2 linked regions of the Homo sapiens genome follow. The protein of the gene in region 1 purifies or fractionates together with the protein of each later gene. This does not show direct contact. Each region holds a gene or a part of one and is shown on either strand. Other genes may lie near its edges. The genes, in order: CMSS1 and MME.

Region 1 (3,827 bases):
TGCTGGGACTATTCTCTTTAAACACTTTGTATGTAGGCAAATACCTGTGGTTAATGAATATGAAACCATTCATCCAATTAGAATCAGATGTAAAAATTATTTTCATTAATATTTTTTTAAAAATCGCCCTTTAAATGATTTTTCCATATGAAATAAGCCTTCATATTGAGGTCTCACAACTCTGTAGAGATCTGATTTCAATAGTCTGGATAGCTTTGCTTTTTCTCTTCCTCTCTTTCTTTTAAATACAGAGAAGAGTAATCCTGTTGCATGGGGTGGGGGCTGGGGAAGTCTGGTGACACACAAAAAAATCTGGATTCCAGGAGGGGCTGGTGGTGAATCTTTAGCTAAAAGCTGTTAGGGAGGCAGGAACCAACCTGAGAGTCCATCCTTAGCTTCTGATACCCAGCCAATTACTCCCAAATCTGTGTCTCATAGAAGGCCTTGGTGCCTCTCATCTGTTCCTTAACTTTCAAATGCCATAGGATGTCCACAAGACAAAAATCCAAACTCCTCAGCTTACTGTTCAAGGACTTTCCTCAAATTTCTTTCCAGTTACATCAGCTGCTACTAGAGCCCACGAAGTTTCCAAGCAAGAAAGTTGGTCTCTTTAATAAATAACTAATATTTGTTAAGTGTTTAGGGTGTGACACTTACTGTGCTGAGCTCTTTATTGGCATTTTGTTTTTATAACAAACCTCTAAGTAGCTACTATTACTATCCCTGTTGTTCGCACAAAGAAACAGGCTGAGAAGGGTTAAGTAACTTGCCAAGGTCACAGAGCTGGTAAGTTGCTAGACCTGGGATTTGAATCTGGAGGTCTGAGTCCATCACAGGGGCTCTTAACTGCAACATTGTTTTACCTCCTCATCAATTCCTTGTGATATACCATGTGCATGTGCCTGCTTTCTGAGAATCTCACTGGGCTGTTCTCCCATTCATGAATGCTTCCTCTGACCCTCCCGGCCTATTTCAATCCTCCCCACACTTCAAAGATCAGTTAAAGACCCTGCCCTGCAGATTCAGGCCAGCATAACTATCTCTTTCTCATTTCAACTCTTGTAGGACTTAGAAGTGCTCATTTGGCTCTTGGCATTTACTGCCTCATGCTATCGATCTCAGTCTATGTACACTTAGTTCTTCAGCTGGATCAGGAGCTCCTTGAGGGGAAAAGGCTCTAGAACCAGGAGAGCCTAGACTGACAGACCTTGGGGAGGGTGACTTAACCCTCTGAGCTTCAGTTCTCTCTCATAAAAAATAAAAAGGCTAGCCTGTAAGGATGCTGTGAGTGCTAAATGAGGTAACATATGTAAGGGTGTCAAGCGTAGCGCTGCGTACAAGTAGGAACTCGAAAGTGTTGTTTCCCTTCCTTGTCAGGGGCAGCCAAATTTGTTAGTTGTTGGTATTTGTACAAAACTCTGCATATAGTGGGTTCAACTAACCCTGGATGATTTTCATCTGGAGAGAAACAACAGTAGTTTTAGCTTTTGTTGCTCCCTGGCAAATGACCATCTCTATAATGAGTTACTACACTGATGAACACATTACTTTTAGATATATAAAATAATCTGAGAATAGCTCCAGACAGTTATTTAAAAAAAAAGCTCTATTATATAATACATAAGTAATTTGGAAATAAGTATTGAAAAGAAATCATTCAATCTGCCTGGTAGGTAGAAGAGGTAATAAGATAATTGGCAGGTTAGCAGGTTCTTAGGCTACTGGCTTTGAGAAAGTTGGCAAACTATAAAAACCCACCAGTGGATGTTGTCTAGAATACTTTCTGTAAAGCACTAAAAGAGAAACACATTTGGGAAGAACTATTATGGAATGCCTGCATTACATTCATGGAAACTACGTTTTTTGTTTTAGTATGTTTTATATACCAGCCCTCAAAATGGGAGTCTCCCCAAGACTCAGTGGAGTGACAGGGAACTGCTCAACTCAAGCAGTGGCTGCACACTGGTGGAATGAAGGCTATGTGGAACCACTAACCTGCTTATAGCAGCTGGAATTTGACTCTGTTTAGGTGGGCACACGTACTTCAGTTTGCCACAGTCCTTATCATTCCCTATTGTGCTATACTTGCTGGTTGGTTTCAGAGATTAAAGGCTGAGTTTCCAATTCCTGAATTAACACAGAGGTCTGGTTTTTGTATATCCTGAATTTAGTTTCTGAGACTCACATGTAGGTAAGGCAAACTCCCAGCCCTGGGCAAGAGTATCACTGCCCTCTTGTCATACCTTGTTTAACAAGTTCTTTAATTCTCCCCGGAGTTCCTACACCCAGGTGCACCACACGCTTCTCCAGCAACTTTACCTGCGCCTGGACCTGTTCCAAGATGAAAGAGAAGAAAGAAAAGGAAGTCATTAAGAAAGTGCTATCTTACACCAATTTAGAACATTTTATCTCAAAGTTAAGAAAGTGAAATACAAATGGAGCTACCCTTGTGTAGGGTCGACTTCCAGGGCAGAGATGAGCATATCCCTAGAAAACTGGTAATCTTCAAGGAATCAAAGGGTCAAGCCTCAGGTTCTATACAGGGACAGAGCATGGCAGTAGCGACTGCCATACTGGGGAGGTAGGTATGCAGAAGCATAGAATTTAAAAAACCAGAAAAGTTGTTAAATGTTACATAAGGAAGGAACTCAATAAAATATGTGCTAAGGAGATTAGGAGAAGAGGTTGAAAGGAAAAAAGCTGAGGTCTGGGAGAGGCCTTTAGGGATCACACAGGCCCTTGCTTACCTTTATGTGCTTTGCAAATAATTTTATAACTTTGCCGTCTCCTCTGAATGCTGTCATCGACCTAATGAAAAGAAGCAGGTGAATGCTTAAGAAAACCAACTCATTCTAGGCCACGATGACTACTTAAGTATTATGTCTTGCTTTATTCAAAGGATGTGTGCATACGTGTGTATATATGTGCATATGTACATACAAATTCTGAGATTTGCAGGTTAGCCAATCTTTGCAATGAGAGTGGGGTGGCCTTTTATTCAGGCACATATCTGGGTTGGCTTTACACTGCCATACACAAGGTCAACCTTACTTAGGCTTCCTTGATTACTGAAACACATGACCTGCCTTTCATTTGTAATACAGAATTCCTGTATTTCAGGTCCCTGGCAGAAAATTCATCTTCCAACTATGCAGTGCAGTTCTCATACAAAATTTGGTTGCAAAAGATATCTTGGAGCGGTGATGTCAGCTCGTTCTCTGTGGAGCCAAGGGCATCTACAAAGGTCTGCCTGTGGTGGCCATGAGGGAAGCCAGGAGATGAGCTTGAAAGGGGGAAGAGGGGGGGCTTCTATCCTTCTATCACAGCTGTCCTTTCTTATCTACTTTGTAGACTAAATTCCTCTATAAAATTTTATAGGTGGAAATGAAGCTTCAGCCAAAAAGCAGGAAAAGAAGGAAGGAAGGAAGGGAAAGAGGAAGCAAAGAAGGAAGGAAAAAAAGTAAGAAGAAACCACTGACACAAAGGACTGGCTGAATTAAAGCTATGAGGGCAGGGGGTTATTGTAAATGAGGTGATCTGGGAAGCAGGGGTGAAGACTGAGGGGCACTTGAGAGTGATGCCCCCCGTAAAGGGGTCAACTAGTGCTCAGCTTTGCCAGTTATGATGATGTGAGACTATGGGCCTAAGACTCTCTGATTTTTAGAGAAGCCAGAAATCTAGATTTTTATATGTGCAATCTGATTTTAAATATGGGCAAGTCACTCACAAATTTTTTAGGTGCCAAACACTTGTAGGGTAAACTTAGCCTTTGAGTTGTCACTTTACAGTCTCTGGCTTACACCAGTAGGACAGGCAGTCCATTTAGT
Region 2 (3,213 bases), about 55 Mb from region 1:
AAAAAATGAATGTCTAAAATTGTTTTTTGTTGTACCTGCTTTGACTGATGCTGAGATTCTTCAGGCTTCCTGCAATTTTCTAAGCAATTTCTTGCTCTATCTCTCAAAACTTGGTATTTTTCAGAGATTTATATAAATGTAAAAATAATAATTTTTATATTTAATTATTAACTACATTTATGAGTAACTATTATTATAGGTAATCAATGAATATTGAAGTTTCAGCTTAAAATAAACAGTTGTGAACCAAGATCTATAAAGCGATATACAGATGAAAATTTGAGACTATTTAAACTTATAAATCATATTGATGAAAAGATTTAAGCACAAACTTTAGGGTAAAAATTGCCATTGGACAGTTGTCTAGAGATATATATACTTGTGGTTTTCAAATTGGACTTTCAAAATTAAATCTGTCCCTGAGAGTGTCTCTGATAAAAGGGCAAATCTGCACCTATGTAGCTCTGCATCTCCTGTCTTTTCAGGTTTGTCATCAGATGGAAATATTTTGATAATAAATTGAAATTGTGAACTCATTGCTCCCTAAGACTGTGACAACTGTCTAACTTTAGAAGTGCATTTCTGAATAGAAATGGGAGGCCTCTGATGGACCTTCTAGAATTATAAGTCACAAAGAGTTCTGGAAAAGAACTGTTTACTGCTTGATAGGAATTCATCTTTTGAGGCTTCTGTTCCTCTCTTTTCCTGTTGTATTGACTATTTTCGTTCATTACTTGATTAAGATTTTACAAAAGAGGAGCACTTCCAAAATTCTTATTTTTCCTAACAAAAGATGAAAGCAGGGAATTTCTATCTAAATGATGAGTATTAGTTCCCTGTCTCTTGAAAAATGCCCATTTGCCTTTAAAAAAAAAAGTTACAGAAATACTATAACATATGTACATAAATTGCATAAAGCATAAGTATACAGTTCAATAAACTTAACTTTAACTGAACAATGGCCCTGTAGCCAGCACCTGTAAGAAACAGAGCAGTACCAGCGCTCTAAAAGCACCTCCTTGTCACTTTATTACTCCCAGAACAACAACTATCCTGACTTCTAATATCATTCACTAGCTTTGCCTGGTTTTGTCTTTTATGCAGATAGAATCAATCAGTATGTATTCTTTTGTGCCTGGCTTCTTTCTCTCAGCCTTACATTTGTGAGATTCCTCTGTATTGTGCTGATTGTGGATCTTTTCATTCTCATTGCAGAATAATGTTCTATTGTGGGACTTATTACAATTTGTTCATCCTATTGTTGATGGGCACTTGAGAACTTTCCATTTTGGCGCTATTACAAATAGTGCAACTATGAATGTACTGCATGTTACCATCTTACTTGAGCCTTTAATGGACTTATTTCTTCAAATCCTTCCAAAAATTATTATAAGCATTGAAATTATAGTTTCAAGCCAACTGTGGATACCCTTACCCTTTCCTCCTTTATCACAACCACCGTTACAAGTATACTTATATTTCCCTAAAATACATTTAAAACTTACCTAAGTGACATTTGTAGTTGGAGTAATAGGAGCTTCCAGCTCTAATAAAACAGCTGTCTCTAACTTATTTTATTTCCATCATGTCAGAGCAGGTGAAGAGCCAGAAGTGAAGAGTGACTAGTACAAATTATAAAAAGCCACTAGACTCTTCACTGTTAGCTTTTTAAAACATTAGGCTCCCATCCCTATGGAGGAACAACTCTCCAGTGCCTGGATCCCCTCTGTCTACAAATATAAGATTTTCTGGGCCTAAAGGATAGATCAAAGTCAAAAATAGCAATGCCTCCCTATCCCTCACACATCCAGACATCATGAATTTTACATGGTACTCTTGTTGAGTTCTGTAGAGCCTTCTGATGTCTCTAAAGCACTACCGATTCTTTGGAGTTGTCACATCAGATAAGACATATCTCTAATTCCATCCATAAATCCAGTTCTACTATGGCTGAGTTCTGGTCAAAGAAAGAAAGTTTAGAAGCTGAGACACAAAGGGTTGGGAGCTGATGAAACTCACAAATGATGGTAGGAAGAAGCTCTCGACAATACCCGTTGGCAAGGAGTCTGCCTCCATGCTGCAGTGTTCGAGTGGATTGTAGGTGCAAGATGGAAAGGATTGTAGGTGCAAGCTGTCCAGAGAAAAGAGTCCTTGTTCCAGCCCTATTCTGCCACTCCTGACAGGGTGACCTTGGGTATTTGCAATATTCCTTTGGGCCTCTGCTTCTCTCACCTAAAAAAAGAGAATTAGATTATATTGGTGGTTCTCAGCAAGAGAAGGAGTATGTGTCCAATGCTGCCTTCCCATGAATCTGTCTCCCAGTTATGAATCAGTGGGCAGGATAAACTGAAAACTCCCATTTACGTGTCTGAATCGAGTGAGACAAAATTTTAGTCCAAATAACAAGTACCAAAGTTTTATCAAGTTTGGGTCTGTGCTGCTGTTACTGTTAACCATTTAAGTGGGGCAAAACCTTGCTAATTTTCTCAAAAGCATTTATCATTCTTGTTGCCACAGCTGGAGCTCTCAAACTAAAAGACATTTGTTATTTTGGAAAGAAGAAAGACTCTATTCTCAAAGTTTCCTAATCAGAAATTTTTATCAGTTTCCAGTCTCAAAAATACAAAATAAAAACAAACGTTTTTAATACTATTGCTTTTATGCCTAGTCAACTCTGTTCCAAACTGCCAACTCCTGTGTAAATCTCTACCCCATTTATTTCTTGAAAAATATTAAGATTAAATGGAGCTTTTATCTCTGTAGTCTTGCATTTCCCACTAGCTTCAAATTGAATTTTTAGAAAATGAATGATATAAGCTTTGTATCCATTATGTCCTTGTTTTCCCCACCCTTTTTCAAAGATCACCATGACTTTCTGATTGGATTTTTTTTCAAAAGTGAAATGGCCATCAAATGTTATATGGAGTCACTAGCATAATCAGATGACTTAGGCAAAAGCCAAAAGTAAGTGTCTTTATCCACAGTCTCTAGTCTGAAGAAGTTGACCATTTGGTTGGTCAAGTGGACAGAGGAGTCACATCTGACTGGTGGTCAAACTGGCACATGTTTATCGCATTCTAATCTTTTATCTAACAATGGTTTCTTAATTTCTGCTTCTTTGTATTTTGCATTTCCTCTAAAACAGTGAGAAACACTACTTTCACTTTCAACCTCATAGACAAAATGTTGTGCTTCTATTTTGCTTGACAAAAC

The links.
Region 2: the proteins of CMSS1 (region 1) and MME purify together in Homo sapiens (co-immunoprecipitation; one study listed by IntAct). This does not show direct contact.

The regions. Positions count from the first base shown.
Region 1 is NC_000003.12:100,170,820-100,174,646, reverse strand, and holds part of CMSS1 (protein CMSS1), read right to left. Parts: intron 2,809-3,827; coding exon 2,748-2,808; intron 2,332-2,747; coding exon 2,244-2,331; intron 1-2,243.
Region 2 is NC_000003.12:155,181,053-155,184,265, forward strand, and holds the end of MME (neprilysin), read left to right. Parts: 3' UTR 1-2,652; downstream 2,653-3,213. UniProt on the Homo sapiens protein: Thermolysin-like specificity, but is almost confined on acting on polypeptides of up to 30 amino acids. Biologically important in the destruction of opioid peptides such as Met- and Leu-enkephalins by cleavage of a Gly-Phe bond.